4 linked regions of the Homo sapiens genome follow. The protein of the gene in region 1 purifies or fractionates together with the protein of each later gene. This does not show direct contact. Each region holds a gene or a part of one and is shown in the gene's direction. Other genes may lie near its edges.

Region 1 (7,683 bases):
AGCACTTTGGGAGGCCACGGTGGGCAGATCATCTGAGGTCAGGAGTTGAAGACCAGCCTGGCCAACATGACAAAACCCCGTCTCTACAAAAAATACAAAAATTAGCCAGGCGTGGTGGCACGTGCCTATAATCCCAGCTACTTGGGAGGTTGAGGCAGGAGAATAGCTTGAATCTGGGAGGTGGAGGTTCACACCACTGCACTCCAGCCTGAGCAACAGAGTGAGACTCTGTCTCAAAAGAAAAAGAAAGAAAGAAGGAAAGAAAGCATGTGCCCATACAGAGATCTGTGTATGAATGTTCACAGCAGCTTTGTGACAGCCAAAAACTAGAAACAACCGGAAAGCTCAGCAATACATAAATGGATACACTGTGATATATTCACCCAGCAGAATATTACTCAGCAATGAAAGGGAATGAACTATTGATATGTTATTCCATGGATGAATCTCCAAAACATGTGCTGCGTAAAATAAGACAAAATGGCCAGGCGCAAGTGGCTCACACCTGTAATCCCAGCACTTTGGGAGGTCGAGGTGGGTGGATCATTTCAGGTCAGGAGTTCGAGACCAGTCTGGCTAACATGGTAAAACCCCATCTGTACTAAAAATACAAAAAAGTTAGCCAGATGTGGTGGTGCATGACTGTAGTTCTGGCTATTTGAGAGGCTGAGGCAGGAGAATCGCTTGAACCCGGGAGGCAGAGGTTGCAGTGAACTGAGAAATCCTGCCACCACACTTCAGTCTGGGCGACAGAGCAAGACTCCATCTCAAAAAAAAATCAGACAAAAAAAGGCAACTTTATGATTTCACTTACGTGAAATTCTAGATAGGTGAAACTATAGTGACAGAAAGCAGATCAGCTGTTGCCTGGGGCAACACTTAGTGAAAAATCACTAAGGGGCATAAGGAGATGCTTGTGGTGATGACGTTCCTTATCTTGATTGTGCTAATGCTTATATGGGCACATACAGCCTTCAGAGCTCATGAAATTATATACTTTAGATATGCACAGTTTCTCATATCTCAGTTTTACCTCCCTAAAACTATTAAGAAATTTGTGCTTAATACTTTGGTGAGCATTTTATGCCCTTTGCCCCATGTAGTTGGTTCTCACTGGTAGGTAGGCAGGCAGGTAGAATTAGCAGCTTTAGGTGAGACAGAGCTGAGCGGAGGTTCCTTCACTCAGTCAGGCTCTCCCGGCCAGTGGCTTGCAGACCAGGCCAGGCTGCTGCCCTTCTTTGGTGCTGCTGCAGAGGGAAGTGTTTGGCATGTGGGGTCTCTACAGTTAGTCCTGGTTTCTAAGAGTCTAAGGCTGTTTTATTCTCTCTTTTCTTTAGTCCTTTGGGAGACAACATTCTACTTATGTTCTCTTAATGTTTTGTCCCCTAGGCATTAGCAGAACCAAGGGCTGCATGAGTTTTGAGCTTGTGTCTGGTGTTTTCCCTCAGGGCACAGTCTTTTGCTGAGCGCCTGCGCCTGGGAATTGCAGTGATTCATGGAGAGGCGCAGGATGCCGAGTCGGACTTGGTGGATGGACGGCATTCCCCACCCATGGTCAGAAGTGTGGCTGCCATCCACCCCAGCCTGGAGATCCCCAGTAAGTGTGCTGCTGCCTCTTTCCCACTTTCCTCTGATTTTAAGGCTGACTACACTGTTGTCTGTGTGGTTTTTTTCCTCATTCTTCGTTTTTTTTTAGTTGGCAAAAACTCATTAACACCTTTCTTGGCCAGATAGTAGCGAATGCATTTCTGATTACCTTGTAAATTGTAAGGCCGTTTAGAAGCAGTCTGTCCTTCTTTGCAAGACCTGTGAAAATGTTTGGACTATTGAGACAGTTGCAATGCTTCAGGGAAGTCCATTCATTCATTCAGCAGTATATACTAGAGTGTAGTTTAACATAAGCAAAAAGCTTTTTATATACAAAGTTATTGACTGTGATGTTGTTTTTAATGCAAAATATTAGAAAGGTTTAAATGGTTTACCAGAGTGTAGGGCTTGGTAAATTATACTGTGTCAGTACAGCTAATTATGCAGCCCTTTGAAATAATCAAGACTATCTGGAAACGAGAAAAATATATGGAATATATATGAACAAGGCAGAATATAAGATTGTATACCTATTTGTCTTAGTTCAGGCTGCTGTGATGAAATACCTTAGACTGGGTAATATAAACAACAAATTTATTGCTCACAGTTCTAGAGGCTGTGAAGGTCAAGATAAAGGCGCCAGCACTGACCCCGTGATGGGCCGGGCACGGTGGCTCACGCCTGTAATCCCAACACTTTGGGAGGCCGAGGCGGGTGAATCACCTGAGGTCAGGAGTTCGAGACCAGCCTGATCCACATGGAGAAACCCCCTCTCTACTAAAAATACAAAATTAGCCAAGTGTGGTGGCGTATGCCTGTAATCCCAGCTCCTTGGGAGGCTGAGGCAGGAGAATCGCTTGAACCCGGGAGACAGAGGTTGTGGTGAGCCGAGATCGCGCCATTGCACTCCAGCCTGGGCAACAAGAGTGAAACTCCTTCTCAGAAAAAAAAAAAGATAAAGGCGCCAGCAGATTTGGTGTCTGTCGAGGGCCTGTTCCTCGTAGATGGTACCTTCTTGCTGCATCCTCATGTGGTGGAGAAAGGTGGAAGACTCCCTCAAGCCTCTCTGACAAGGGCACTGACCCCCTTCGTAGAGCAGAGTCCTAACAAACTAGTCACCTAAAAGCCCTACCTCTTAATACCACCACAGTGGGTTCCAGCATGAATTTGGAAGGACACAAAAATTCAGACCATAGCATTTTGCCCCGGCCCCTCAAAATTCATGTTCATCTTACGTGCAAAATACATTCATTCTATCCTAATAGCCCCCAAAATGTTAACTCCGGGTAAGTCTTAACTTAATTTCAGCATCACCTCAAAAGTCTGAAGTCCAAAGTCCCATCTAAATATCATCTAAATCAAATATGGGTAAGACTCCAGCTCTGGGATTCACTCTGACGCACGTTTCTCTCCGGCTGTGAGCCTGTGAAATCAAACAGGTTGTATGCTTCCAAAATGCAATGGTGGGACAGACATTGGATAGACATTCCCATTCCAAAAAGGAGAAGTGAGGCCCAGTGTGGTGGTTCACGCTTGTAGTCCCAGCGTTTTGGGTAGCCAAGGTGGGAGGGTTGCTTGAGGCCAGGAGTTCGAGACCAAAAGGGAGAAGTAGGAAGAAAGAAAGGAGTGACAGGTCCTGACCAAGTCTAAAACCCAACCAGACAAACAACATTAAATCTTAAGGCTTAAGTTGACTCAAAGCCCCGCCTTCCACAAAAACTGGGGCAGGGGTTGGTCTTGCAAAGCTCTGGATGGCCCCACTCCCACAGCTTTGCTGGGAGCAGCCCATGCAGCAGCTCTCAGTCACTGGATTCTCATGCCTGCATCTCTCAGGCTGGAGTTGCACTCTAGTGGTTCTACCAGTCTTGGGTCTTGGGGTGGTCTTGCCCCACAACTCCACTGGGCATTGCCCTAGTGGGGTCTCTCTGGTGGCCCTGCCCTTGTGACAGTTCTCTGCTTGGGCCCTGGCACTCTTTGGGGCATCCTTTGAAGTCTGGGTAGAGGTAGATGTGCCCCCACAGCTCATTCACTCTGTGCACTGTGGAGATGGCCCTGCACGGACACCACTGTGGTTTGTTGCCTGTGCCTTCCAGAGGGGTGGCCCGAGCTATAGTTGGACCTGCTTGAGCTATAGCTGGAGTGGGTAAGGAGTATTCTGGAATGTGGGAAGTGGAGCCTTGAAATCGTTCTGCCCCCAAGACCCTGGCATTCTAGGCTTATGATGAGATGGGCAGTCACAAAGATCTCAGAAATGCCTTTGGGGTCATTGAGTCACTGTCTTGATGAATAGCGTCTGGTTCTTTTTTTTTTTTTTTTTTTTTTTTTGAGACAAGGTCTCACTCTGTCACCCAGGCTGGAGTGCAGTTGTGCGATCATGGCTCATTGCAGTCTCACCTCCTGGGCCCAAGCAGTCCTCCCACTTCAGCCTCATGAGTAGATGGAACTACAAGCACTTGCCACCGCACCTGGCTAATTTTTGTATTTTTTGTAGAGACAAAGTTTTACCATGTTGCCCAGGCTGGTCTTGAACTCCTGAGCTCAAGTGATCCACCCGCCTTAACCTCCCAAAGTGCTTACAGGTGTGAGCCACCACTCCTGGCCGTCTGGCTTCTTTCTATCCATACTAATCTCCTTATCAAATGTTTGCTTGGTGGCTGGGCGCGGCGGCTCACACCTATAATCCCAGCACTTTGGGAGGCCGAGGCAGGTGGATCACGAGGTCAGGAGATCAAGACCAGCCTGGCCAACATGATGAAACCCCGTCTCTACAAAAAATACAAAAATTAGCTGGGCATGGTGGTGCGTGCCTTAAATCCCAACTACTCGGGAGGCTAAGGCAGGAGAATCACTTGAACCAGGGAGTTGGAGGTTGCAGTGAGCTGAGATCCAAGACTGTGCCACCGTACTCCAGCATGGCAACAGAGTGAGACACCATCTCAAAAAAAAAAAGAAAAAAGAAAAGTTTGCTTGGCTACACACTTGGAGTTCTGTCCTGAACATGTTTTTGCTTTTTTTTTTTTTTTTTTTTTTTTTTGAGACAGAGTCTTGATCTGTCTTCCAGGCTGGAGTACAGTGGTGCGATCAGATCTCACTGCAGCCTCCACCTCCCGGGCCCAAGCCATTCTCCTACCTCAGCCTCCCAAGTAGCTGGGACTATAGATGTGTGCACCAGGCCTGGCTAATTTTTTTTTTTTTTTTGGTAGAGACGGGGTCTTGCTTTGTTGCCTAGGTTGGTCACAAACTCTTGGGCTCAAGCAATCCTCCCTCCTTGGCCTCCCAAACTCTTGGGCTTATAGGCCTGAGCCATTGCATCCAGCCTTGCTTTTACATTCTTTACAAGATGGCCAGGCTGATAATTTTCCAAATATTTAAGTTCTACCTCCCCTTTGATGATAAATCTCATCTTTAATTCATCTTCTTGGATTTTAGTATAAGCAGTCAAGAGCAGCCATGCACCCTCTTTTGCCAAAGATTCTATTTCACTGCCCTTTTTTTTTTTTTGAGATGGAGTCTCACTCTGTCACCCAGGCTGGAATGCAGTGGTGCAATCTCGGCTCACTGCAACCTCCAGCTCCCGGGTTCAAGCAATTCTCATGCCTCGGCCTCCTGAGTAGCTAGCACTACAGGTGCACACCACCACACCTGGCTCATTTTTGTATTTTTAATAGAGATGGCATTCCACCATGTTGGCCAGGTTGGTCTCAAAACTCCTGAACTCAAGTGGTCCGCCTGCCTCAGCCTCCCAAAGTGCTGGGGTTACAGACATGAACCACTGCACCCGACCTTTTTTTTTTTTTTTTTGAGACAGTGTTTTACTCTCTTGCTCAGGCTGGAGTGCAGTGGTGTGATCACAGCTCACAGCAGCCTTGACCTCCTGGGCTCAATCGATCCTCCCACCTCAGCCTCCCAAATAGCTGGGACTGCAGGCATGTGCCACCATGTCTGGCTAATTTTTGTATTTTATGTAGAGATGGAGTTTTGCCATGTTGCCCAGGTTGGTTTTGAACTCTTGGGCTCAAAGCGATCCTTCCACCTCAGCCTCCCAAAGTGCTGAAATTACAGGTGTGAGCCACCATGACCAGCCTACTGTCTGTTTTTCTACTAGCATTGTGATCATGACCACTTAGATCATTTCTAAGAAGATTGAGGCTTTCTTTACAGCTGTTTTCTTCTGAGCCTGTCTTAGTCTGTTTTGTGTTGCTATAACAGACTATATAAGACTGGGTATTCTATAAAGAAGACACTTTATTTAGCTCACAGTTCTTCGGGCTGGTAAGTTAAAGAGCATAGCATCACATCTGGCAGTTTCTGGTGAGGGCCACACACTAGGTTGAAACATGGTGGAGAAGAAAAGTGAGCAGGCGGGTGCAGAGAAATCACATGGCAAGAGAGGAAACGAGAGAGCCTGGGAAGCCAAACTCATTTTTATAACAACCTGTTCTCATGGGAACTAAGTGCCCTGAGAGCAAGAACTCACTCACCCCCATAGGAAGGCATTAATCCATTCATGAAGGATCTGCCTCTGTGACCCAAACATCTCCCACTAGGCCCCACCTCTCAATAGCGCACACTGGGGATCAATTTTTTTTTTTTTTTGAGACGGAGTCTTGCTCTGTCGCCCAGGCTGGAGTGCAGTGGTACGATTTTGGCTCACTGCAAGCTCCACCTCCTGGGTTCAAGCAGTTCTCCTGCCTCAGCCTCCCGAGTAGCTGGGACTACAGGTGCATGCCACCACACCCGGCTAATTTTTTGTATTTTAGTAGAGATGGGGTTTCACCTTGTTGCCCAGGCTGGTTGAACTCCTGAGCTCAGGCAATCTGCCTACCTCGGCCTCCCAAAGTGCTGGGATTACAGGCGTGAGCCACTGCGCCTGGCCCAAATTTTTAACATAAGTTTTAGTGGAGACAAACTACATCCAAACCAAAGCAGAACTCTCACCAGAGCTCCCCTTTACGGTCTGTACATAGCAATACAGTCTTTTTCTAGCCTTTTCCTCTTCCAGCCTCTGCCCATTACCCAGTTCCAAAGCCACTCCTGCATTGGTGGGTATTTAATACAGCAGCAACTCACTTCTCAGTACCAATTTCTGTCTTAGTTTGTTAAGGCTACTATAACAAAATACCTTAGACTTGGTATTTTTTTTTTTTTTTTGAGACGGAATTTCGCTCTTGTTGCCCAGGCTGGAGTGCAATGACACGATCTTGGCTCACCGCAACTTCCACCTCCACCTCCCGGGTTCAAGCGATTCTCCTGCCTCAGCCTCCTGAGTAGCTGGGATTACAGGCGCGCACCACCACGACTGGCTAATTTTTGTATTTTTAGTAGAGACAGAGTTTCTCCATGATGGTCAGGCTGGTCGCGAACCCCTGACTTCAGGTGATCCGTCCACCTCAGCCTCCCAAAGTACTGGAATTACAGGCATGAGCCACTGCACCCGGCCAGACTGGGTAATTTATAAACAACAGAAATTCATTGCTCACAGTTCTGGAGACTGGGAAGTCCTGGATCAAGGCACCAGCAGATTGGTGTCTGATGAGGGCTCACTCTGCTCCTGAGGTGGCACCTTGTTACTGTGTCCTCAGATGGTGGAAGGAGCAAGGCAGCTCTCTGTAAGGGCACTAATCCTGTTCATGAAGGCAGAGGCCTTGAGCCTTAATCATTTCCCAAAGGCCCCACTGTTAATACTATCACATTGGGTATTAAGTTCCAACATAGCATTTTGAGAGGACACCATCTTCAGACCACAGCACTCTCTTTGTCTATGCAAAGACCAGGAGGAAATAGGAAGAATGAATGTAGTTGGGTTGGGGTGGTAGAGTTATGCATGAATTTGTTTTTGTGTTTAAGAAACTTCCCCATGCCTTAATAACATCTTCTTAATTAAAAAAAAAAATGCCACCTTCGAGTTGTTGGGGAAGAACCCTAACCCCCTGCCCTCATAGATTCAGTGTTTGGTGGCATATGGACTAAACTGGCAAAAGACAGATGAGGAAGAGGAAAGGCAGTTTAATCACATACATACAGATGTGTGTGATTAAACTCTTTTGTGAGTCACAAAAATGTGACTCGAAGTGGTTACAATTTGGGGCTTATATA
Region 2 (7,955 bases), on another chromosome or scaffold:
TTTGAGGCTGCAGTGAGCCATGATTATGCCACTGCACTCCAACCTGGGTGACAGAGTAAGACCCTGTCTCTAAAAAAAAAGAAAGAATAATTTAAAAAAGAAAGAAAGAAAGAAAGAAAAGAAATTACCTTGAAGAAGGGCCATGGCCAGACTTGAGAGAAAACACCTTCCAAGTGTCCAAATGCTTCTTCCTCTTCTTCCGTAATGACACAGGACTTTCAGCCAAAATTGACTGAGTTCTGCTCTGGAATTCGCACTGCACTGTGTTCTGAACACAGATGGTGAGTGCAGTCACAGACGATGGCAACTAACAGACTACGCGGTGGCTGTGGACAGGGAGATGAGGAGACGTGGTTGCCTCTGGGCACTTTTTGGAGGCAAAGTCGACAGAATTTCCTACAGATTGCATGTGTTGTGCGACAGAAAGAGCAGAGGAGCATGACTCCAAGTGTTTGGGCAAGGAGAGGGTGAAGCTGCCATGAACCCAGCATGGCTGAGCCTGAAGGGAGAGCAGGTATGGGAGCATCAGGAGCTCAGATTTGAACAGATTATGTATGACATTTTAGATGTCTAGGTGGAGCTGCTAAGAAGGCATTGGACACAGGAATCTGGAGAACGAATTCTCCATATTAATCTCATAGAGATTCAGTGGTGATTTTTAAAAGTCAATGTATTCATTAACACTTAACCAGAAAAAAAAATACAGATCATAATGGCTTCTATTAGTTTTATCAGAAAAAAAGCCAAGAACAATCTTCTAAAATCCTATTCTGATGAAAGGAACTGTCAAATGATAGCAGAATTTGTTCCAAAGGTTTTTTGTAAATTCGTTATTTATAACTCAGAATATATTTTCCCAGAGAAATGATTTTATGATTCATGGCTAACCTCTTGGGCTGGGTCTCAGAAGTGTATCTCTTGTATAACATAACAGTATATTTGTGGGGGAAAAGGGTAAAATTACACAGTCAGGCTACTAGCAATTAAACAAACAAAGAAAACTTAGCGATATAGGAGCTCTTATGTTTCCTTATTTATGATTCCTGATTTGAAATAGAGCTCATTTGACCCATCAAACCCTCTCTCCAAGAAATGACAAAGACCTTTTATTTGACTGGAACATTCAGCTGTGGGAGGTAGGTCCAAGGATTTTGCTTCCTGGCAGCAGACTAGGCTAGGGGAAGGAAGCAGGTTTGTGTAGACAAGGAACCTGGGGATGCAGGCTTAAAGAACTCTCAGAGACTTAAGCCCACCATGAGAGAAGGAATGGGGTTTGCAAGCTCTATTTTAAGCCTCATTCACACTTTGATGTGAATCATTTTAGTCACATCCAAAACAAGTAGATCACTCAGGAATGCACATTTTTATTGAGGCAGGATAAAGAAAAAGAGTTTCTAGAACTAGAGGAGAGGATTGGCTCAGATGGAATCACTTGGGCCAGCAGCCAGCAAGTCTGTATGTTGACGGGGTAGGTGAGGGAGGACATGAGCGTCTAAAGAGCCTTAGGAGAGGAGGCAAGAGGTAAGTTGAAGTCACAAAGACAACTTTTGCTGAGGTTCTGGTGGTAGCTGCTGTGATAACAAGAATTACGTTTATGGGTCAACAAGGCCTGGGGTCACACTATCGATTCTAGCTTGGGAAACTACACGTCTTAGTCTATCATCATTTGGTCCATGCTTTCCATTCTCAGTTCTTCTAAGCTGACTTCTCAGTTTAAATTCCCCTTGCTCAACTCCCACCTCAATGTTATTGCAGGAAGAGAAGGGGAGGGGAAGAAAGTGGGGGCATTTGTGTTACACCTTTACTGTGCCCATTCTCTCTCTTCTTCTCCCCTTTACTATGAATGCATGTTAGCACATACTTACCACGGCTTCCCTGGTCAAGGGTCCTTTGAAACATAGAACCCTTGAATGCCCATGGCTATTGATATAGCTCCAACGAATGGAGGAACACCAGGGTTGTTGGTCTCGTGCTGATAGGATTAACAACACGGACACGTGGAGTGGTTTTAAGGAGTGAAAAGTTTAATAGGCAAGAAAGAAGGAAGGAAGAAGAAAACACCTCCCCCATACAGAGACAGAGGTAGGGAGGATTTGAACAAAGAGAAAACCCAGTGTGCAGTGGAAAAGTGGTTGCTTATATTGGGATCCTGGAGGAGGTGGTGTCTGGTTTGCATAGGGCCCAGGGGATTGGTTTGACCAGGTGTGTCATTTACATAGCTCTCGAAAAACCTGGCCCTCCCACCTTAGCCCTTTAATATGCAAATACAGGTCACCGTGATGTTCTGAACACATGGTGTTATCTGGAGGTGGCCATGACACTTGGTACACCTGATGACAAGGAAGAGATGGCGGAATCACCATGTTGAGTGAACTCAGTTTCTAAGGACTGACATTTGCATATCAAAGCTTGCGGGCCTGGCTCTTCAAGCTGCCTTTTCTGTTAGAAAAGAGATGGTTCAGGGGTTGTTTCTTAAAACAGGAAAATTTCCACTGAGAACATTTACCCTTACTATCTGCCTAAAAAGTATTTCTTAATAACTGCTATATCACTATCGTGGGGTTTTTTTCCCATTCTTTCTTTGTTGATGCCAAAGTAAAATTAAGTTAAATATTGTATCCTCTCATAGATCATGAATGCAATGAGGGCAGGCATTATATCTCTTGCTCAACAATTGGGTCCTAGGTGTGTAGGCTTAATGTCTTGTGCAGAGTGGGCATTCAGTAAACAATAATTCAATAATGAATGAATAAATAAGGGAGAATGTGGAGGAGGTTATAGGCTTAGAAAACTTTCTGGGCACTTTCAATGGTTTTAGAGGGTGATGGTATTGGGTGGTTAATAAATCTAAACTCACTTGAAAACATAAGGCTTTCCACTGGTAACAGTCCTTTTATATTTAATCAGTCATCCCAGAGTTGTGGTGAATTGGAAGTCATGGCCAAAGTATTTTACACTCCTCTATTTTCCTACCTCTTGAATCTGAACTTGCCTTATGACATGTTTTCATCAATAAAATGTGGCAGAAGTAATGTGCAGTGGGAGTCCAGGCCTTACGAAGCCTGAAGTTTCCACTTTCACTCTCTTGAAATTCTGCTGCCTTCCTATAAAGGAAGCCCAGGCTAGACAACCAAATGAAGAGGGGTCTTGTGTGTGGGTACTAAATAAGAAAGTGAGGATAGAGAAAAAAATCCAAGGCCAGTTCACCTGTTGGCACTAGAAAAAATGCAAAATATTGATTGGCAAATAGATGCAGGAAGATCGATCGATTGTGTGGTGAGGCCAAAGGGAAGAACTCTTCGAATAGTTATTTCATATTCAACAATAAGTGAGAGTTGGCAGGCAAGCAGAGATTGTGTAGGAGTTTTGAGAAGGAAGGTGTGAACAGCCCTCCAAGTGAGTGGGTGAGTGATTTGACCATGGAAACATAGGAGAGTTGCTCAGCAGCACCAAAGGTCGGCTTAATGTTTATGATCATTAAAATGAGTAATGTTAGCATCCTCGTTTGTTTTTTTCCAGTCAAATTCACTTGCTCAAGAGCAGTTCCAGAGTAGGTGGAGAGCTGGGGTTTTTCCTGGCTTGGAGAAAGGAGGGAGAGGGAGCCAAGGCCGTTGAGAGTATACGCACTAAAATGATGGGACATGAATTTATGCTGGGAAAAGAAGGACGTGTAAGAGCAGAGGGATAGGGAAAGGTGAGGAATCTGGTGAAGGTTAAGTAATTACTAGCACTAGGAGGTATGAGCTGGAATGGAAAGGGGAAGTAAAGTGAGCTGTTTGAAACTGACACTACGGAGGGTACACAGTTATGAGTAAGGTCAAGGGTGTGATCCCAGGAATGTGTGGCTGCGCTAGTGTGGGAAAGATCACAGGAGGTTGGAAGCTGAGAGGCTGTATAGTCATTGCAGGAATCATCCATGTGGATATTGAAATCACCATGAATTATGAATGAAGCCAACTGTATTACTGGTTACTATTTTTACCAGACCACTGTACGCGACTTTAGATCCCTCAACTTCCCATTTAGAGCACTTATCACGGCTTGAAATATTAGAGCGATTATTTGGGTTGGGCGCGGATTATTTGACAGTAATCAGGGTTTACAAGTCTGTTTCGTTTCTTGACTGACATACAATTAATACCCAAAAGGCAGAATGGATAGAAGAATACTATTCTATCTGTCATACAGAGAAACTTCAGATGTAATAAATTATAAAGCCAATTAACCCTACAAACAGGATCCACAGCAGTTTCACATTAATGAAAAAGCAAGACTTCAAGAGGGCGGGAGTTTTTGTCTGCTGATCTTCCCGCATCTAAAATAGTGCCTGACACATATTAGGTGCTTTGCAAATATTGAATGAAAGAATACGCCCCATCAGTATCTCACCGCGCCTGCGCTAGATGCCCTAGGTGGGGCCAGCCTTGACGCGCTGCGCCTGCGCAATGTCTCTTTGCGGGGCGCACCGGCAGGCTCCCAGCCCCGCTTCGTCGCAGCGGCTTGGGCCCTCCGGCCCTCCGTAGCCGCTCGACTGTCGCGCTGCACCAGCTTCCTCCTCGGCGTTCCCACGCCTATTTGGGCGGATTCTTGGCGCCGGAGGAAGAGGCAGGGTCACCCTCTCTCCACGTCAGAGACCTGACTGTGGAGATGGCGGCTCAGAAGATAAACGAGGGGCTGGAACACCTCGCCAAAGCAGAGAAATAGTGAGTGAGAACCTTCCGGGGGCCTGTGTGTAGACGCCGGGTCCGTCTCTCACTGGCGCGGCCTTAGCACCCGGGGGGGGCGGGAGGGAGGGCTCAGGGCTGAGGGGCCTCGGCGCGCTGGTGCCCGCAGGGCTGCCGGGGCTCGGTGTCCTCTGGGTCACACTCCCGGGGTCGGGGTCAGCTCTGCGGCGCCTCGGGAAGCGCCGTGGGTCCACCCCGCCGGAAGTCCGCTCCCCAGAGCCGGTGTGGGCGGGGACTCGGCGCAGTGCTGCGGGGCGAGGGCTTCTCTACTTGGGCGCTCTGCTCCTGAAGATTGTGGTGGGGGCTGTCTGTGCATCGGAGGCTCGTTAGCAGCATCCTTGGCCTCTACCTGCTGGGTGCCGGTCGCATCTCTTCCCCATTTGTGGCAACCCAAAATGTCATCTGGGGAACAACATCGCTCTGTTGAGAACCACCGCCCTAGAAGAGCCCCCTGTGTGGAGGGGACCATAGGTTTACCCCAAAAACTCCTCGGTGAACCTTTGTCATCTGGCATTTTACTGTCCCTGTGGGCAGGGACTGTGCTTCGTTCGTCCTTTGATGTGTATGTCCTGCCACCTCTGGTACAGTACGTAGTAGGCACCCTGCAAATGTTTGTGGGACTGAACTGATAATCCTTAATTCATCCTTTTGGCAGCCTCTTCCCCCCGTTTCATTACTCCAGTGCATTTTTATCTGGCAGTTACAGTTAATAGAAAGTCAGCATTGTGGGCCGGGCGCGGTGGCTCACGTCTGCAATCCCAGCACTTTGGGAGGCCGAGGCGGGCGGATCACAAGGTCAGAAGATCCAGACCATCCTGGCTAACACGGTGAAAACCGTCTCTACTAAAAATACAAAAAATTAGCCGGGCGTGGTGGCGGGCGCCTGTAGTCCCAGCTACTCGGGAGCCTGAGGCAGGAGAATGGCCTGAACCCGGAAGGCAGAGCTTGCAGTGAGCCGAGATCGCGCCACTGCACTCCAGCCTGGGCCACAGAGCGAGACTCCGTCTCAAAAAAAAAAAAAAAAAAGAAAAGAAAAAGTCAGCATTGTGCTCTGTGGTGGGTGCTTCACATACATAATTTCATAAGCTGAGATCTTCACAATAACTTTCCAAATAGAGATTCTAATTTTTCGTAAGAGGAAATGAGACTCAGGGAAGCCTCATAACGACTTGCCCCCAACTGCACAGGTGAAAGATCGCAGAGCCAGTTTTCAAACAGTGGAAAAACTCAAGCTCTATCACATGACTCGAGGCAGTCAGCGTGTAAGGTGCTGGGGCTCTCCTGGTGCAGGAGGTTCCCACAACATTCTGCTTTCTAGTGGGAGCAAACGCAAAATTTGTAATAAGAATAGTGTGTGGAATAGGGACCACAAAAAAGCTGTATTAACTGTGCATAGGTAACCCAGAGGGAGAAGTTTATTCTGCCTGAGAAAATTTGAGGAGGAGATGATTTGTGAGCAGAGCTTGAAAAATACGGAATGTTTTAGACGGAGGGAAAATCTTGTGAAAGAGATTCTGTGCGCAACCTGTAGTATGTATTATACGCGGGCCTGAAAATGTGCTCTGGGAACAGTGAATGTAGTGTAGTCACAGTGCCAGGGGACGAGCTGGAGTGAAAAAGAGTTGGGGCCAGACTGTGAAGGGACAGCTTCTCACATGGCTATTGTAGGCATCCAACCAGTGGACTCGGTTAGATTTGCTTTTGGTGAAAGAAATGTGGCAGCAGGCTGGGCCCTGTCGCTCATGCCTGTAATCCCAGCACTTTGGGAGGCTGAGGCGGGTGGATCACTTGAGGTCAGGAGTTCGAGACCAGCCTGGCCAACATGGTGAAACCCTGTCTCTACTAAAAATACAAAAATTAGCCGGCTGTGGTGGCGCGCACCTGTAATCCCAATTGCTCAGGAGGCTGAGGCAGGAGAATCCCTTGAGCCCTAGAGGCGGAGGTTGCAGTGAGCGGAGATCGCGCCACTGCATTCCAGCCTGGGAGACAGAGCAAGACTCTGTATCAAAAAAATAAATAAATAAAAAGGAAAAGAAAAAGAAATGTGGCAGCAGTGTGGAGAATGGACTTTGACATATTCAGTAAACGAACATTTACAAAGTTGTCTCTGTGTACCTGTACCAGCCACAGAGGATACTGGAGTAACCAAAAGTGGTCCCTTCTTCAAGAGCTTAGAATTCACAGGTGGGCAGACAAGTTAACAGAGGACTAAAAATAGGATGTTCAGTGCTAGAATAGAAGTATTCAGTGTGGTATGGTAGAGATAGGAAGCAAGGAAAAGGTAATATGCTCAGGATGTGGGGAATGGAAGAGGAGGAAAGGTGACTCTCCCATGAAGGTACTGCCAGACATGTTAGTGGGTTGTCGACTTCAGGGGAGAGGTGGTGATGGCCTGAATTCAAATAACAGTACAGGGGTAGGACTGGGTGATGTTTGTCAGTAAGGTTGACATGCTTTAATGAGGTGCCTGCATGTAGAGATGAAGAGTTAACTCCTAGGTTTCTAACTTGGGAGACGAGTGGGAGAGGCCTTCAGCCAAGATAGGGGATATAGATTAATGGATGTGATTGGTGGGTAGGTCTGGGGCAGGGAGGTGGGGCGGGGAGGTGTGGAGTTCAGGCTTGAAGTGTTAGTTTGAAATGCTGCTAGACAGAGTTACTCAGTGGGTGGTAGGAAAAATGGGCCAGGAGCTTAGGAGATATTTGATTTTTCTCCATTTTCTAATGATGACGTAGTTCAATATTGCTGAGTAATTTTGTAAATTGATCCCCACACAGATGGTAATTTTGCTGTTTTCTTTTTTTCTGTGGAAATTGGTCAGTTTCCTTATTGATTCTTTGGAGAAAAAGGTCAAAAGGACTAACAGGTATGGCTGCTAAACCCAAATTAGCTGTATATCTTTCTTCCTTATTAGTGGTGTTCATGTGACTTGGGATGGTTTGCCCAGTTTTAAACTCTCTGGGTCTTTCCGTGTATAGCACATTAGGTGACGGAGTGATTGTATCTTGTTTTTAGTGGGATTAAAAAAATTATGTTAATATACAGAATGTAATGTTTGTTATGGGATAGGAACAGAGGGTTAGCATTTTGCATATTGCATATTTCCTCAATTTTGTAGATTTGAGTAGACACACCACAATTTAAGGATATTATTTTTCTGAACAGTGAAATTCTTGGTAAGCTTGAAAAATTGCTTATTTTAATTTGAATCTTGTAACACTATATACACAA
Region 3 (7,683 bases), on another chromosome or scaffold:
GGGGGGGGGGGCGGTATCACAATCACCACCAGCTTCTAGGCTCCTGGCTTCCTGGCTGCATGGCCTCAGACACAGCCTTTGAGCCACTAGGCTTTGTTGCCATCTGTGAAATGGAGGTGAGAGAGCACCCACTGGTGCAGACTAAGTGAGACCGTTCAGGGGGCACCCAGCACAGGCTGGGCATGACGGGGCACTGGGCTCCTGTCAGTTTGCCCTTCTTCCCAAGGGCTGGGTAGTGATATGCCAGCTGGTAGTGTTAGGTGGTGCAATGGCCAGTGAATTTGTTTTCTATTTGATTGTATGGCTTTTGCAACAAAGAAATGGCAGGGGCCAGGTGCAGTGGCTCACACCTGTAATCCCAGCACTTTGGGAGGCTGAGGTGGGAAGATCACTTGAGGCCAGGCATTCAAGACGAGCCTGGGCAGGAAAGCAAGACTTCGTTTCTATTTTTTTTTTTTTTTTTTTGAGATGGAGTCTTGCTCTGTCACCCAGGCTGGTGTTCAGTGGCGCCATCTTGGCTCACTGCAACCTCTGCCTCCCGGGTTCAAGCGATTCTGCCGCAGCCTCCCGAGTAGCTGGGATTACAGGCGCCTGCCACCATGCCAGGCTAATTTTTTTGTATTTTTAGTAGAGATGGGGTTTCACCATGTTGGCCAGGCTGGTCTCAATCTCCTGACCTCAAGTGATCCGCCCGCCTAGGCTTCCCAAAGTGCTGGGATTACAGGCGTGAGCCACCGAGCCCAGCCCATTGTCTCTATTTCTTTTTTTTAAGAAGTGGCAGGAAGATCAGAGAGAAGCAAAGGGCCTCTCCTGAGGCACGGGCAAGCACTTGCATTGCAGGGTACAGCTGCAGAGGAAGGGGATTGGGACGTGTGAATAGGGGTTCTGGAGGCTAGGGTGAGGTGTGAGGGTGACTCTGGCCTTTGGGCCATTTCATGCCTTCATGTCAGCTGCTGGTTGGGCTCCTGGTGGCCACATTCATGCTTTGGTCCTGACCCCAGGCAGGCTGGTGTCTGCCTGTGTGGCAGCCCTGGTGCCCATATCAGTTGGGGAGCCTCCTTTGTGGTCACCACTCTTGTTCTTGGGCATCAGCTGGTTGCCTGGCTGTGTTAGTGACCCAGCCCACAACAGCCCCCTACTCTACCCTGGCTACATGCAGTGCCCATCTCTGGGGTCACTGCAGAGTAGACCTGGCTAATGCCACCCTCTCTTCCGGCTGCCTTTCAGGAAGACCATGCTCAATGACCTCCTGCGGTTCGATGTGAAAGACTGCTCCTGGTGCAGGTGGGTGGCCCCGTGCTCCAGGGCCCTGCCTTTCCTCCTAGAACACAGTGGCACAGTGCTGGGTCCCAGTTGCTAGCAGAGTCTCTCTCATCATGGGAAGCTAGAAAGAAGCTTCCAGGAGGAGATAACCACGGCCTCAGGGATGCCACATCCAGAGCCGCCCTGTCAGGCTGAGGAGATCAAGTAACCACCCCGCACCTGCAGCTGCCAAGCTGGGCACACAGGGCGGCACCCTTCTGGGCTGTCCACCTCTACCTCGAGGCTGATGCTAGTATGGGTACAGAAGTTGCTATGTCTTTTCTCTCACACTTGATTTTGTAAGATGGCTAGTAGTTACAAATTAATTTAAAAAATCATTCTGAAGGCTTCACAATTATTTGTCAAAAATTGCTTAAGTATAAAACTCAGAAAAAAGCTAGGAGTTCAAGACCAGCTGGGCAACAAAGTGAGACCCTGTCTAGGAAGATAGATAGACAGATGATAGATAGATAGATAGATAGATAGATAGATAGATAGATAGAAAGAAAGATAGATAGATGATAGAAAGACAAAGAGAGATGATAGATAGATGATAGGTAGATTAGACAGATAGATGACAGATAGATAGATAGTGGATAGATGATAGATGACAGATCGATAGATAGATGATAGGTAGATGATAGGTAGGTAGATTAGATAGATGATGGGTAGATAGATGACAGACAATAGATGATAGATGATAGGTAGATAGATGATAGATGACAGATAGATGATGGATAGATTATATAGGTAGATGATAGGTGGATAGATGATGGATATATAGATTATATAGATTAGATGATTGATAGATGATAGGTAGATAGATAGATGATGGTTAGATAGATAGGTATTAAATGAAATTGATGGACCCCGTGCTGTAAGATGCTGCACTGCTGCTGAGAGCAGGAGTGTGGATGGTCCTGGAGTAGCATGAGGACCTGGTCACATTCTGTGAGTGGAATAAGCAATTTACAAAATATCTGCCACTTGATTCCATTTTAAAAAATTTCATGGAAGCCTAAGTATGCGTAGGAGAGGTGTGCAGGGAAGACCTCAAGGTGTTGCCAGAGGTTTTCTGGTAATGGGAATTTGCATGAGCTTTAGTGCCTATTTTGTTTTTTCCTTATTGGTGATTTTTTTTTTTTAAGTTTCTATGATGAGACAGGTATCACCTTCAAAATACAAAAGTGAAACGTAGCTGGGCGCGGTGGCTCACGCCTGTAATCCCAGCACTTTGGGAGGCTGAGGTGGGCGGATCACCTGAGGTCAGAACTTCAAGACCAGCCTGGCCAACATGGTGAAACCCCGTCTCTACAAAAATACAAAAAATTAGCTGGGCATGATGGTGGGTGCCTGTAATCCCAGCTACTCAGGAGGCTGAGGCAGGACAATCGCTTGAACCCAGGAGGTGGAGGTTGAGCCGGGATCGTGCCACTGCACTCCAGCCGGGACGACAGAGAGAGACTCCGTCTCAAAAAAAAAAAAAAAGAAAAAAGAAAGGCAGCACAGGGATGCAGGGCCACCCTGTGGGGGTGTGGACCTCATGGGTGACCCCCGCTGACTCTCACCACCCCTGTGCCCACCCCAGGGCCTTTACCACTGGGACCCCACCGGCCCCCCGTTACCACCACTCGGCCGTCGTCTATGGGAGCAGCATGTTTGTCTTTGGTAAGCAGCCTCTTGCCTCCCAGGGGCTGTGTCGCCCCGAGGCCCACAGACACCCTGCCCTTCTGCAGGCCTGGGGCATTTGTGCTCGTGCTGTGTACAGCAGGGGCTCTCTCTCCACCCGTGGCTTTGTCTGCCAGTCTTCGGAATTCTGCGCTGGATCTGGGACCCCTTGCCCTAACGGCCCTGAGCTCACAGGGTTGGGTGTCTTTCTGTGTTACTGAGCTGTGGCTGGGAACAGTGTCCTGCTCATCTCTGTGTCCCCAGAGCCCAGCACAGAGGCAGACAGGCAGCAGGTCGTTCCGGGGCTTGTGGAAGGAGTCCTGGCTTATGCATTTTCAGGGGGGCCAGATTCTGCTCCACCTTCCAGGGTTTGAAATCTCCAAGACTGCCCTTTGGGTTTGACAGTTTCTCACTCTCTTTACTCAGGGGGTTACACTGGGGACATTTATTCCAATTCTAACTTGAAGAATAAAAACGACCTCTTTGAATACAAGTTTGCAACTGGCCAGTGGACGGAGTGGAAAATTGAAGGACGGTGAGAAACTTTGCAGAAACATTTGGGACAGGCTGGGTCCTGGGTGGCATTGGACCTGGGATCTGCCCCCTTTTGCCTCCCAGATGAGGACCCTGAGGGCACGCAATAGCAGGGAGCTTGGGATTGGTGGAATATCCCCCGGTGCAGCTATGCATGGCCTGCTCCCAGCCCTTAGACTCCCTCCTTTCAGAAGAGACCCAAATGGACCAGGCGTGGTGGCGCATGCCTGTAGTCCTAGTACTTTGGGAAGCCGAGGTGGGAAGATCACTTGAGCCCATGACTTCAAGGCTGCAGTGAACCATGTGTGCCCCACTGCACTCCAGCCTGGGAGACAGAACAAGACCTTGTCACAAAAAAATGTTCAATAAGATCCAATGTACTGCTGATGGCGCTTCTGGGGTCCCGCTTTTTGAGCACCCCCTTTGATATTTTGGGGGCACCTAGGAGAAGGTTCTGTGCCTCTGTGGCTGTCTGAATTCCTCTTCAAGCCACTAGTCGGCCTCTGGGGCTGTTGTTTATTCCTAGTGCCTTGTGGAGGTCCTGAAGCCCCAGTGTCGGGTGGATGTAGCCATGCAGCCTGGCTGTGGCCCCTGCACTGACCACATGGGGCTGGGTGGCTCAGGTCTGTGCTGGGCGGCCTCACTCCCTCCCCTCTTCCCTCACACTCCAGGTTGCCAGTCGCTAGGTCAGCCCATGGGGCCACGGTGTACAGTGACAAGCTGTGGATCTTTGCTGGCTATGACGGCAACGCCAGGTGGGTGGTGGTCCGGCCTGTGCACCCCACCTCCGACAGCACTGAGACCCGGAGCAGGCCGTCCTGGCATTTGAGGGCTTAGGCTGGGAGGATTTTGAGTGCCTGGTGGATTTTGAGTGCCACTCTGTCTGGGGGTTTCTTGGGAGGGGGATGGGGAAAGAGGAGGATGGACAGATGGAGGTGAGGGCCACTGGGTGGAGCCCCGTGGCTACCAGAGTAGCTTGGATGAGGATCCTCAGCCAGGAGTTGCCCTGCGGAGCTGAGTTGGTGGGCGGGTGGGCGGTGCCCAGGCTCAGGCCCAGCCCTGGTTCTTGCCCAGGCCAAAGGCCTTTTCCTCCTTATTTTAGAAAGTTGGCTTTGCTCTCTTTTTCTGATCACAAAAGTAGCATATGCTGGTTTCCCAAAACTTCAGCATCATAGAAACTCCTAACGATGCAGTGATGGTGGCATCTGGGATATCTGTGTCCTCTCCCCACCCAGGAGGGACACTGAGTGAGGAGCTGGCACTGCCACACTGCCCTGATGTCATGCATGAGAGTACTTGTTCTGTCTGGGCCGGGCAGGGGGCCTGGCACAGCAGGGATTTGAGGCAGTGGCTGCCACCCCACACAGAAGTTCCCGCCTCATGGCCGCACAAGTCTCCTACCCTGTGTGGGGGTGGGGCTCCTCCCTGCAGCCATCCCTTCCAGCCAGGACTAGGCCCACCCTGACCACCAGACCCAAGGGGTCCTCACTGGTCTGTCCTAATACAGGTTGAATGACATGTGGACAATTGGCCTCCAGGACCGAGAGCTCACCTGCTGGGAGGAGGTGAGGGGCGTGGGGAGCCAGGGCGCAGGTAGAGGAGGTGAGGGGCACGGGGAGCCAGGGCGCAGGTGGAGGAGGTGAGGGGCATGGGGAGACAGGGTGCAGGTGGAGGGAGGTGGGAGGCAGGGGGAGCCAGGCTGGGGGTCGAGGCTGCTTTCTTCCCCTTGCAAAGCCCAGCCTCGACCTGAGCCTCGCTCTCCTCCCTGGTGACCTGCGGGCCTTCACGACCAGTTCCTCACTGTGGCTGCACAGTGATTCGAGGTTTGGTGCTTTGGATGGGCAGAGTGCCACGTGTGTGAGGATGTGGTTTTGCTTTAACGCACCCTTTATTTCAGTGCAGTGAGGGCCGTCTGCTATCCAGTGTCCTGCTCCCTGGAGCTCCCCCTGGGCTTGCTTTCCCCTTTAGAAACATGGAATTTATTTATTTATTCATTAAAAAAAATTGTTTTTCAGTCTTCTGGGCATGAAAAACATGAGTTTAGCCCCTGATGATTTAACCCTGACGATTTTAACCCCAGCTGTTCACAACTGGGCCCCGTGAAGTGGATGAGACAGGGCTATGAGCTGTTCCAAGACAAAGGAATCTGTGAATCCTCATCTGGGGAAGTTTCAAGAATAAAAGCAGTCCCATCTCAGCAGTCTCGAGTGTGGTGAAATGTGAGCGGGCCCTGTGAGGCCGGGGCTGAGCTGTCCTCTCCCCCTGCAGGTGGCCCAGAGTGGCGAGATCCCCCCATCTTGCTGCAACTTCCCCGTGGCTGTGTGCCGGGACAAGATGTTTGTATTCTCTGGGCAAAGCGGAGCCAAAATAACCAACAACCTCTTCCAGTTTGAATTCAAGGACAAGACGTGAGTACTCTGGCCAGTGGGGTGGAGGGAGGACGGTCAGTTCCCTCGAATCCTTCTGAATATGAAGAACGCCTCTTGCACCTGGTGGCCATGGTAACCATCCTTGTGAGCTCTGCAAACAGCAGGAGGTTACAGCCCGGAGCAGGGATGTGCGGTGCCCCTGGCAGGTCCCCAGGATATGGCTACAGCTTAGCAAGATAAGGCCTGGCGAGGAGGCCCCTGGCTAGGCCTCCCTCTGAACGTGAAGGACGTCCCCTTCCTCGTGAATAGCTTGGTCAGTGCCACCAGTAACAGACGTGGCCTGCATAGATCTCAAATAATGGCAGAAGACCAGAGGGGCCTGCAGGTCCTGAGAGGTCTGGCCCATGCTGCCCCTGGCTGCTGGCCAGCCCTTGATCCCTGCAATGGGGCTGCAGGAGAGGGCACAAGGAGTGTGAGCTGCAGGTACAGGGGGTTTGGGAAGGGACTTGGGAGCTTCCCTGGAGGCCACGGGTGCGTGGGAGGAAGGGCAGGGAGCCCCAGGATGAGGGAAATTGTCAAGGGCCTGGGGCTCAGCATGGAGCCAGATGGCATAGCCCTGCCAGGCCAGGATCTGTTCTGAAGTCTTCAGCTAACTTAGCAAAAGAGAGGACTTGCTGGGAGGTACTGGGAAGCCTGGGAGGTGGAAGGTGCTGGGGCAGCATCAGGATGTGGGGTACAGGCAGCTCCCAGGATGGGGACTCAGCTGTGGGGATGCTCTGACTGGGCAGCGTGAACACAGTGACCTGCAATGGTCTCTGCACAACTTTACTCCCCAGAGAGCAGGACTGCCTGGGCGGGTCAGATGCCACCCTCCTGCCCATCACTGCTGCCTGCTCCATGGGGAGAGGGGGGAGCTCTGGCAGGACCCTGCGGTGGGCCACATGGAGCCAGGCAGGGCTGGTGCCCGTGCTGGATGGGGTGAGAGGTGCTCAGCGCAGGTGTCTAGGCCCTCCCTCTGGACCCTGGGCTAGTCACCGTAAGGGATGCAGGGGGACCTCCCAGTGAAGGCCTGCTGTGGGGAGGCCCCGAGGGTGAGCAGGAGCCCCTGTCCCAGCATTGATTCACTGTTGTGTACCCCCAGGTGGACACGCATCCCAACTGAACACCTGCTCCGGGGCTCCCCACCACCCCCGCAGCGGCGCTACGGGCATACCATGGTGGCCTTTGACCGCCACCTCTATGTGTTTGGGGGTGCGGCCGACAACACGCTGCCCAACGAGCTGCACTGCTATGACGTGGACTTCCAGACCTGGGAGGTCGTCCAGCCCAGCTCCGACAGCGAGGTGAGGGTGCCCAGGGGTGTCCTGACCTGCCAGCTGGACACCAGTAGCTCCTACCCTGCTCCCACCCAGCTCCTCACAGCTTTGGGGCCCCCTGGGGTTCCAGACAGCTACCAGGAGCAAGGCCAGGACACCTGGGCCTCAGCCCTGGACACCTGCCCCGGCCTCCAGCCCCAGCTTCACCCCACAGCCTGCAGGTAGTTAACGCTTCACACCCCATCATGGCTGCATGGGGCTGCTGTGCTGCAGACCTTTCCTGGGAAGCCCACGGCCATGCAGCTCTTCCTTCTTTCAGAACCCACTCTCAAGGCCAGGATGGTGGGGGTCTCTGGGCACCTACCTGGCCCTTGCCAACTGGTCTCATGCCCATGTGTCTCCCCTCTTCAGGTTGGTGGGGCTGAAGTGCCCGAGCGAGCCTGTGCTTCCGAGGAGGTGCCCACCCTGACCTATGAGGAGCGGGTTGGCTTCAA
Region 4 (7,683 bases), on another chromosome or scaffold:
GGTGACAGTGTGAGACTCCATCTCAAAATAAATAAATAAATAAAAATAATACTGCCGGGTGCAGTGGCTCATACCTGTAATCCCAGCACTTTGGGAGGCCAAGGCAGGCAGATCACGAGGTCAGGAGTTCGAAACCAGCCTGACCAACATGGTGAAACCCTGTCTTTACTAAAAATACAAAAATTAGCCGGGCGTGGTGGCATGCACCTGTAATCCCACGTACTCAGGAGGCTGAGGCAGGAGAATCACTTGAACCCAGGAGGCGGAGGTTGCAGTGAGCCAAGATTGTGCCACTGTACTCCAGCCTCGGCATCAGAGCGAGACTCTGTCTCAAAAATAAATAAATAAAAATAAAAATATTTCATTGCATGGTTCGTTTCCATCTCTTAATCCTTCTTCTTATACTTTGAGAGATTCTCTTAGTATTTATCTTCTAATCCTCTTGTTTTTATTTTTGTAATCCTATTTTTAGTTTTCCTCCCTGACTACTTTTACTTCCTGACTACTTTTTTATCTACTCTCTTGTTCTTTTCTGGGGATATTTTGTCCTCTCAATAGTCTTACTTCATATAATATTTTATCTAAAGATACAACTTTAAAAAGTTTTCTTTTGCTCCCTGTCTTATTTCCTCCAATTTATTTTTGTTTGTTTTGGTCTCCTCTTTCATAGTAGAGACTGTGGTCAAATGTCTGGTACTCTACAGCTGTCTGTTCATATTTAAGGATCCAGCACTGAAAAGCTGCTGGGGAGCTCTGCGAGAGTGGGCAGGATCAAGCCATTCATTGGGGAATTCTCAAAGCAGTGTCTGTAGGGTTTTTCCCTTGGGCTTATCAGTTCCCTCAGAGAGGAATCTTCTAAATTCCTGCTTGGGGTATGAAACTGGCAGCCTTGTGTGAAATACACAGAGGAATGGGGCTGGGGGTATTGTGTTGAGATTACTGACTCTCACGTAATCACATTTGGTACAGTGCTCCCTCCTCCTCTTAGCTTGTTGGATATTCTGGAACTCAGATCCTTTTGATTAAACCTCTGAAACTTCCCATCTTCTGCTGGATTTGAGTAGGGGACTTAAAGGTCTGATTCTTATATAAGTTTGCAACCAACAAACTTGGTTCAGACGCATTCCACTTTGTGGAGGTTCCCTGTATCTCTAATCCTGGAGCCTTTTATTGGAGCAGATCACCTTGCTTTTTGTTGCCCCTCTCCCATCCCTATCCTTTGGGTAGGAAAGGTTTCTCTATTCTACTAAGTCAGTTATTTCTTGTCCTTCTTGTGTTAGTCCATTTTGTGTCAGTATAAAGGAATACCTGAGGCTGGGTAACTTAGAAAGAAAAGAGGTTTATTTGGCTCATGGTTCTGCAGGCTGTTTAAGAAGCCATCACCACCTGGCCTAATTATAATTTTTAAAAATAACGTTTATTTTTTAATAGTATACAGGTTCATTATAAAAACTTTTTGAACAAATAGAAAAACAAAAAGGAAAAATATTACTAGTAGACCTGTACTCAAAGATCACCAGAGGCCAAGTGCGGTGGCCCATGCCTGTCATCCCAACGCTTTGGGATGCTGGGGTGGGAGGATTCCTTGAGGCCAGAAATTTAAGACCAGCCTGGGTAACATGGCAATGCCCCATCTCTACAAAAAATACAAAAAATGGTCCGGGTATGGTGGGGCACGCCCATAGTCCCAGCTACTCAGGAGGCTGAGGTGGGAGGATTGCCTGAGTCCAGGAGGTTGAGGCTGCAGTGAGCCATGATCTGCAGTCAACCTAGGTAACAGAGTTAAGACCCTGTTTCAAAAATAAAAGATCACTAGAATCAACAATCACTCTTTAATTTTATTTTAACTTGATGGTTATCACTATATATATATGTATATATATGTATATATATGTGTGTATATATATATATGTATATATATGTGTATATATGTACATATATGTATATGTATGATTTTATAACTTTTTCCCAAAGAGTAATAATTTGAATTATTATGTTTCTTACACAAGTAGGCTGTTTCTAAGTGTCTGGGTTTTTAACATTTTACAGTTTTTATTATACTTACATTTTTTGGAGACCTAGTCTCACTCTTTCACCCGGGCTGGAGCACAATGGTGTGATCATAGCTCACTGCAGCCTCGAACTCCTCGCCTCAAGTGATCTTCTTGCCTTAGTCTCCTGAGCAGCTGGGATTACACATGGGTGCCACCAGGCCCAGCTTTTTTTTTTTTTTTTTTTTGAAAAGACATTTCCAAAAGTTAATTAGTTGGCATCTTTTCATTCATAGTTGTGATGGTTCACACCTTAATCTGAGTGAACTTTTTCTCTGCCACCTAGGATGGTCCTGGTCTTGTGTACGTCCACTCACTGGCCACTCATTCTGCTTTTCTCAATCTCTTCTTAGGTGTCAGAACTGGGAAGGTGGCATTGGCGGGGTACCAGGGATGGAAGCCCATGGTGGCTATACCTTCTGTGGCCTGGCCGCGCTGGTAATCCTCAAGAGGGAACGTTCCTTGAACTTGAAGAGCTTATTAGTAAGTATCTTTTGAGCCATCCCCCTCTCAGGCCCCAGGTCATGGTGATGTGATTGTACTCAGACATGCAGGCTTCAGGAGAGTTTGGCTATGGGAAGGGCTAAGAGAGTTAGCTCTGTTCCAACACAGAGGAAGGAGTGAGCAGCTGCTCTGTCTTGGCTCCCCCTTCTGCCTTTCTGTCTTCCTGCTTAGAGCTTTTTACATAGTGTGTAGACTACATAGACTGTGTGCTGCAGACATCTGGTGTGAGCAGAGTACCTTCCTTATACTTCAGTTTCGTAGAATTAGAGGTTATCGTGTGTTATAGAAAGAACCTCCTAAGAGGAAAAGTTACAAGAAGAGCTTTGCAGCATTTCGAAACCAAACTTTTATTACCTGCTGCACTGTGTAAACATTTAGTACCTACATTTAAATGAGTTGTTTAGGCAGAGCTGGCTAATTGCATTGAGAAGGCAGCCCAACATTTATGTCTGGACCCCACGCTCCTGGCCAGTATTCAGAAGAAACTCAGAAAGCAGTCAGCTTCAGGGAGTCACTAGATTGTAGTTAAATGATCAGTGGGTGCACAAACACACACACCTCCACGGCCACCAGGGAGAAGGCATTCCCCGTCATGTCATTTGGGGAGCATGTACCCCCTGACCATGACGTCAAAGCAAACCAGCTGCAACTGACATGCACCTCCTCTCCCTGAGTTCAGATGCCAGCCTCCCGTTATGCGGCCCATCGTGAGCTTCCTGGAGAGTTTCTGTTGTACCCTGTAGACATGTAACCAGCAGTGTCTTGCCTCCACCTTCAGAAAGCCTCCCCCGGTGTAGTCTTTTTAAAGATTCATGAAGGCTTGAAGGCTCATGCTGAAACAGCCAACTTTGTATGCTGAACTTAAGAGTTTCTCAGATGTTTTAAAATCTGAACACCAATAAGGCATGAAACAAAAAAGTCCCATCTCCCAGGCAGAGATAAGGAATGTGATTAGGGAGTGCCTCAGTTATAAAGACAGTGTTCTAGATTTGAACCCTGTCCCTACTACATTTGAGACATGAGTCCTTGGGCAAATTGTCTAATCTCTTTTAGCTTGATATTTTTTTCTTTTATAAGGTAGGGATAACAATCCTTATTTTTTTAAGGTTAAAGGAGAGAACATTTATAAACAGCCTGGCACATAGTAGGTACTTAATAAATGTTAGTGTCCCTCTAACCCACAGTAATAATCTTTTTGGCACAAGGGACCAGTTTTGTGGGAGATAATTTTTCCGTGGACCTGGGGTTGGGGGTGGGACGGGGGGTGATGGCTTCAGGATGATTCAAGTACATTACATTTATTGTGTACTTTATTTCTATTATTACACTGTAATATATAATGAAATAATTATACAACTCACCATAATGTAGAATCAGTGAGAGCCCTGAGCTTGTTTTCTTTCAACTAGACAGTCCCATTTGGGGGTGATGGGAGACAGTGACAGATCATCAGGCATTAGACTCTCATGTAGAGCGTGCAACCTAGAAGCCTGGCATACACGGTTCACAGTAGGGTTTGCGCTCCTATGAGAATCTAATGCTGCTGCTGATCTGTCAGGAAGTGGAGCTCAGGCAGTAATGGGAGCAGTGAGGAGCAGCTGTAAATACAGATTAAGCTTCACTGGCTCACCCACCACTCATGTCCTGCTGTGCAGCCTGGCATGGTCTGGGGGTTAGGGACCCCTGCTCTAATCCAGACTACTCCCTTCCATTTGCTTTGGGAGAAGTAGGACCCATATCTGAAGTATGAATTCCTATAGCCCAAGGAAACAGAACAAATCCATGGGCTTAGGCACTGGAAAAAGTAAATTAGTCTGCTTAAAAACACTTAAGCCCTGCGGTAAGTAGAAATGAGGAACCGACTCCCACTGCAGCGCCTGCTTTCTCTCTGCCTGAGTAATGCTTAGCCCACTTCCATTACATGCTGGAAGCCCTGGTTCATTTAAGATCAACCGAGGATATATTAGTACCTGAACCTGCAGTACAGTGTTTTCTGTCTCTTTTAAGCATTTGTGACTGTGACTCTCTATGGGCAGGTGTTGCCTTGAAGAGGGAATAATCTAAACAACAGCTTTTAGGGGAGGGCTGGCCCCCACTTCCATCAAGGGTCCCAGTGGCTCCTTTCAGGACCTTTACCTAGTAAGACTCTAGAAACAGGAAGTACCCTCCCCTGTACCCTTTCAGTTGAGTGAGGCAGCTCTGTAAGTCCGTGGCTGGAACGGCCTAGGTGGTCTAGGGAGGGAAATGGAAATGTCATATCTGCTCAGCCAGTTGGTTCTGCTCATTCTGAGGGACCAAACCCATGACTATCTTGATCTTTGTAGTAGAGTGTGTTTAGAAAACTTGTAGATAAGCAAGGAATGGTGGTATCGTGTGTGACCGCTGAGTGACATCAAGACCAAGACCTATTTTACAGCTTCAAAGTAAAAGATTTTCTTATATCAGCCACAGACTGGGCAGAGTTGTCATTTGGTAATTAGAATGAATGGCTTCTGCTTTCAGGCCTGCTAGTGACTTGCTAAGAGACCTTGGGTAAATTTCCCCAGGTGCCAAGTAAAAGTCAGGAGCAGTTTGAGATCATCTGATGAAATGTAGTACCAGGCCGGGCACGGTGGCTCACGCCTGTAATCCCAGCACTTTGGGAGGCCGAGGCGGGTGGATCATGAGGTCAGGAGATCGAGACCATCCTGGCTAACAAGGTGAAACCCCGTCTCTACTAAAAATACAAAAAATTAGCCGGGCGCGGTGGCGGGCGCCTGTGGTCCCAGCTACTCGGGAGGCTGAGGCAGGAGAATGGCGTGAACCCGGGAAGCGGAGCTTGCAGTGAGCCGAGATTGCGCCACTGCAGTCCGCAGTCCGGCCTGGGCGACAGAGCGAGACTCCGTCTCAAAAAAAAAAAAAAAAAAAAAAAAAAAAAAAAGAAATGTAGTACCAAATTCCATTTATCTGCTTTTAATAAACTCCCCGGAGCAGGGAAGTAATGAGAAATGAGCTACTGGTAGTCTTGCCTTCAATTTCCAACTTAAGCCATGTTTATTAAGAGACTTTGAAGGTCTCCTTACAAACCAGCTTGGCCTCTTTATCTTCTCAGCACTGGCACTGCTTTGGAACCCAGGAAAAGGTAGTTGTCTGCCAGGCATTGAGCAGAGATCAGTGCTGGATGCCTCTACAGCGTTGGCTTAAATGCTTCACTCTGTGTCTATGGCAGTGTGGGGAGGGAAGGAAAGAAAACCAGAGCACCAAAACTAGAGTGCCAAGAAGCCACAAGATGGGAAACCCTCCATCCCACAGATTGACTCCTGGAGATTCTGTCGGGCTGGATTTTGTCTCTTTTAGCCTACAACTGCCTTTCCCATCTGTGTCTCCTCAGCAATGGGTGACAAGCCGGCAGATGCGATTTGAAGGAGGATTTCAGGGCCGCTGCAACAAGCTGGTGGATGGCTGCTACTCCTTCTGGCAGGCGGGGCTCCTGCCCCTGCTCCACCGCGCACTGCACGCCCAAGGTGAGCCTGGGGAGCTGTTCACTTGGGGCTGGATGATTTCCCTCCACTACTCACAAAGTCTGGAAGCCCAGCGTGCTTTTTTAGAGGGGTTGAAATGAGCTCTGTCTATCCTGGATTTTGAGTGCCCAGTGTGGAACCTCATGCCGTGGGGCATGCGAATGCAGAGTAAGATTTAGTTTCATTGGTTTAGTGTCATTCTTTGCTTCTTCAAATTGGCTGCGACAGAATGAGCTTCCTTGAAATTGCTACGGGGAGCGGGGAGGAAGTGGGCGCTGCTTCTGCGTTATCTGGAAGGAGCAGCCCACTCCTGTCCTGGGCTCTGTGGTGATTGCCACCTCCTCTGGGTGCAGGGCAGAGCTGAAAACCCTCAGTGTTGCAACAGTCACTGTTGCAACAGCAACAGGAAAGGCAACTGCGTAAAGGGGTAGAGAACCAGAACCCATGTGTAGGGGTGGGTTGTAGGGGTGGGTTGCCCCTACACCATGGAGAAGAGACTCGCCGTGTCTGACTGGCTGCAGAGTTGTCACTATTAGAAATGTTTTATTTTACATTCATTGAATAAGCCTAAATGGGAGTTTGTTCCACCTGCACCATTGGAGTAGAGAAATCCACGTTCGTTTCTGTGGGGTCTCAAATGGGAACGCAAAACCGAAGTAGTTAGTGAGCAAAAAGTCTGGGAACATTCTCTCTCTATCTCTTGAAACCTCAGTCTGCCTGCTAACTCCTGCACCATCTTTCTGGTGTACTTGATGTGAGAGCAGGTGTCTCTGAGTAGACCTGTGGGAGAGAGGAAGTCATGGGGCCCTGCTGGTTGCTGATCTGTTTTTGGAATGAGATCCCTGGGTCCAAAGAGAAGCTGTTCTTCGGACTTAGTTGGATAATGTAACTGCTCAAATGTAAAAGATGAGATTCTTTTCTGCCCCTCCCCATACTTTTTTTTCCTGTTTCTGAGCCCCCCACCCCCCGTCTTCCCCCCTCCCCGCCGCCCCCGAGATGGAGTCGTGCTCTGTCTCCCAGGCTGGAGTGCAGTGGCACGATCTTGGCTCACTGCAGCCTCCACCTCCCAGGTTCAAGCAATTCTCCTGCCTCAGCCTCCTGAGTAGCTGGGACTACAGGCGCGTGCCACCACACCTGGCTAATTTTTGTATTTTTAGTAGAGACAGGGTTTCACCATGTTGGACAGGCTGTTCTTGAACTCCTTACCTCAGGTGATCCGCCCACTTCGGCCTCCCAAAGTGCTGGGATTATAGGCGTGAGCCACCGCACCCGGCCCTGAGCCTCATTATTTAGTTTCTTAATTTCCTTTGAGTTGTTGAGTTGTGACCATTTCTGACACTGAATTAAAGTAAGCAGAGCCTCTGTCCCATTTTCCCGGCCTGGGCCCACTGGGCTTTAGGTGTCAGTATTAAGGCATATAAGGCACTTACCCTTGGAACACAGCAAGTGCACTGTCAGCAAGTGCACTGACTTTGGAGCCTGCACAGTCTCTGCCTTGACCACCAGTAGGGAAGTCAGGAATTCCCCAAGTCAAACATTTTTTATTTTAGTATTATTTTTTTTTGAGACGGAGTTTCACTCTTGTTGCCCAGGCCGGAGTGCAATGGATCACTGCAACCTCTGCCCCC

The links.
Region 2: the proteins of PRPSAP2 (region 1) and NAPG purify together in Homo sapiens (affinity purification with mass spectrometry; 2 studies listed by BioGRID and IntAct, with this or other methods). This does not show direct contact.
Region 3: the proteins of PRPSAP2 (region 1) and LZTR1 purify together in Homo sapiens (affinity purification with mass spectrometry; 2 studies listed by BioGRID and IntAct, with this or other methods). This does not show direct contact.
Region 4: the proteins of PRPSAP2 (region 1) and FNTB purify together in Homo sapiens (affinity purification with mass spectrometry, with the first as the bait; 2 studies listed by BioGRID). This does not show direct contact.

The regions. Positions count from the first base shown.
Region 1 is NC_000017.11:18,909,655-18,917,337, forward strand, and holds part of PRPSAP2 (phosphoribosyl pyrophosphate synthase-associated protein 2), read left to right. Parts: intron 1-1,448; coding exon 1,449-1,597; intron 1,598-7,683. UniProt on the Homo sapiens protein: Seems to play a negative regulatory role in 5-phosphoribose 1-diphosphate synthesis.
Region 2 is NC_000018.10:10,521,456-10,529,410, forward strand, and holds the start of NAPG (gamma-soluble NSF attachment protein), read left to right. Parts: upstream 1-4,571; 5' UTR 4,572-4,647; coding exon 4,648-4,703; intron 4,704-4,991; exon of another isoform or gene 4,992-5,119; coding exon of another isoform or gene 5,120-5,310; intron 5,311-7,545; coding exon of another isoform or gene 7,546-7,590; intron 7,591-7,955. UniProt on the Homo sapiens protein: Required for vesicular transport between the endoplasmic reticulum and the Golgi apparatus.
Region 3 is NC_000022.11:20,984,614-20,992,296, forward strand, and holds part of LZTR1 (leucine-zipper-like transcriptional regulator 1), read left to right. Parts: intron 1-1,227; coding exon 1,228-1,284; intron 1,285-2,890; coding exon 2,891-2,970; intron 2,971-3,396; coding exon 3,397-3,505; intron 3,506-4,175; coding exon 4,176-4,259; intron 4,260-5,011; coding exon 5,012-5,069; intron 5,070-5,772; coding exon 5,773-5,912; intron 5,913-7,014; coding exon 7,015-7,216; intron 7,217-7,600; coding exon 7,601-7,683. UniProt on the Homo sapiens protein: Substrate-specific adapter of a BCR (BTB-CUL3-RBX1) E3 ubiquitin-protein ligase complex that mediates ubiquitination of Ras (K-Ras/KRAS, N-Ras/NRAS and H-Ras/HRAS).
Region 4 is NC_000014.9:65,038,386-65,046,068, forward strand, and holds part of FNTB (protein farnesyltransferase subunit beta), read left to right. Parts: intron 1-2,404; coding exon 2,405-2,534; intron 2,535-5,925; coding exon 5,926-6,058; intron 6,059-6,302; exon of another isoform or gene 6,303-6,384; intron 6,385-7,683. Other genes in the region: CHURC1-FNTB protein, read left to right, coding at 2,405-2,534, 5,926-6,058. UniProt on the Homo sapiens protein: Essential subunit of the farnesyltransferase complex. Catalyzes the transfer of a farnesyl moiety from farnesyl diphosphate to a cysteine at the fourth position from the C-terminus of several proteins having the C-terminal sequence Cys-aliphatic-aliphatic-X.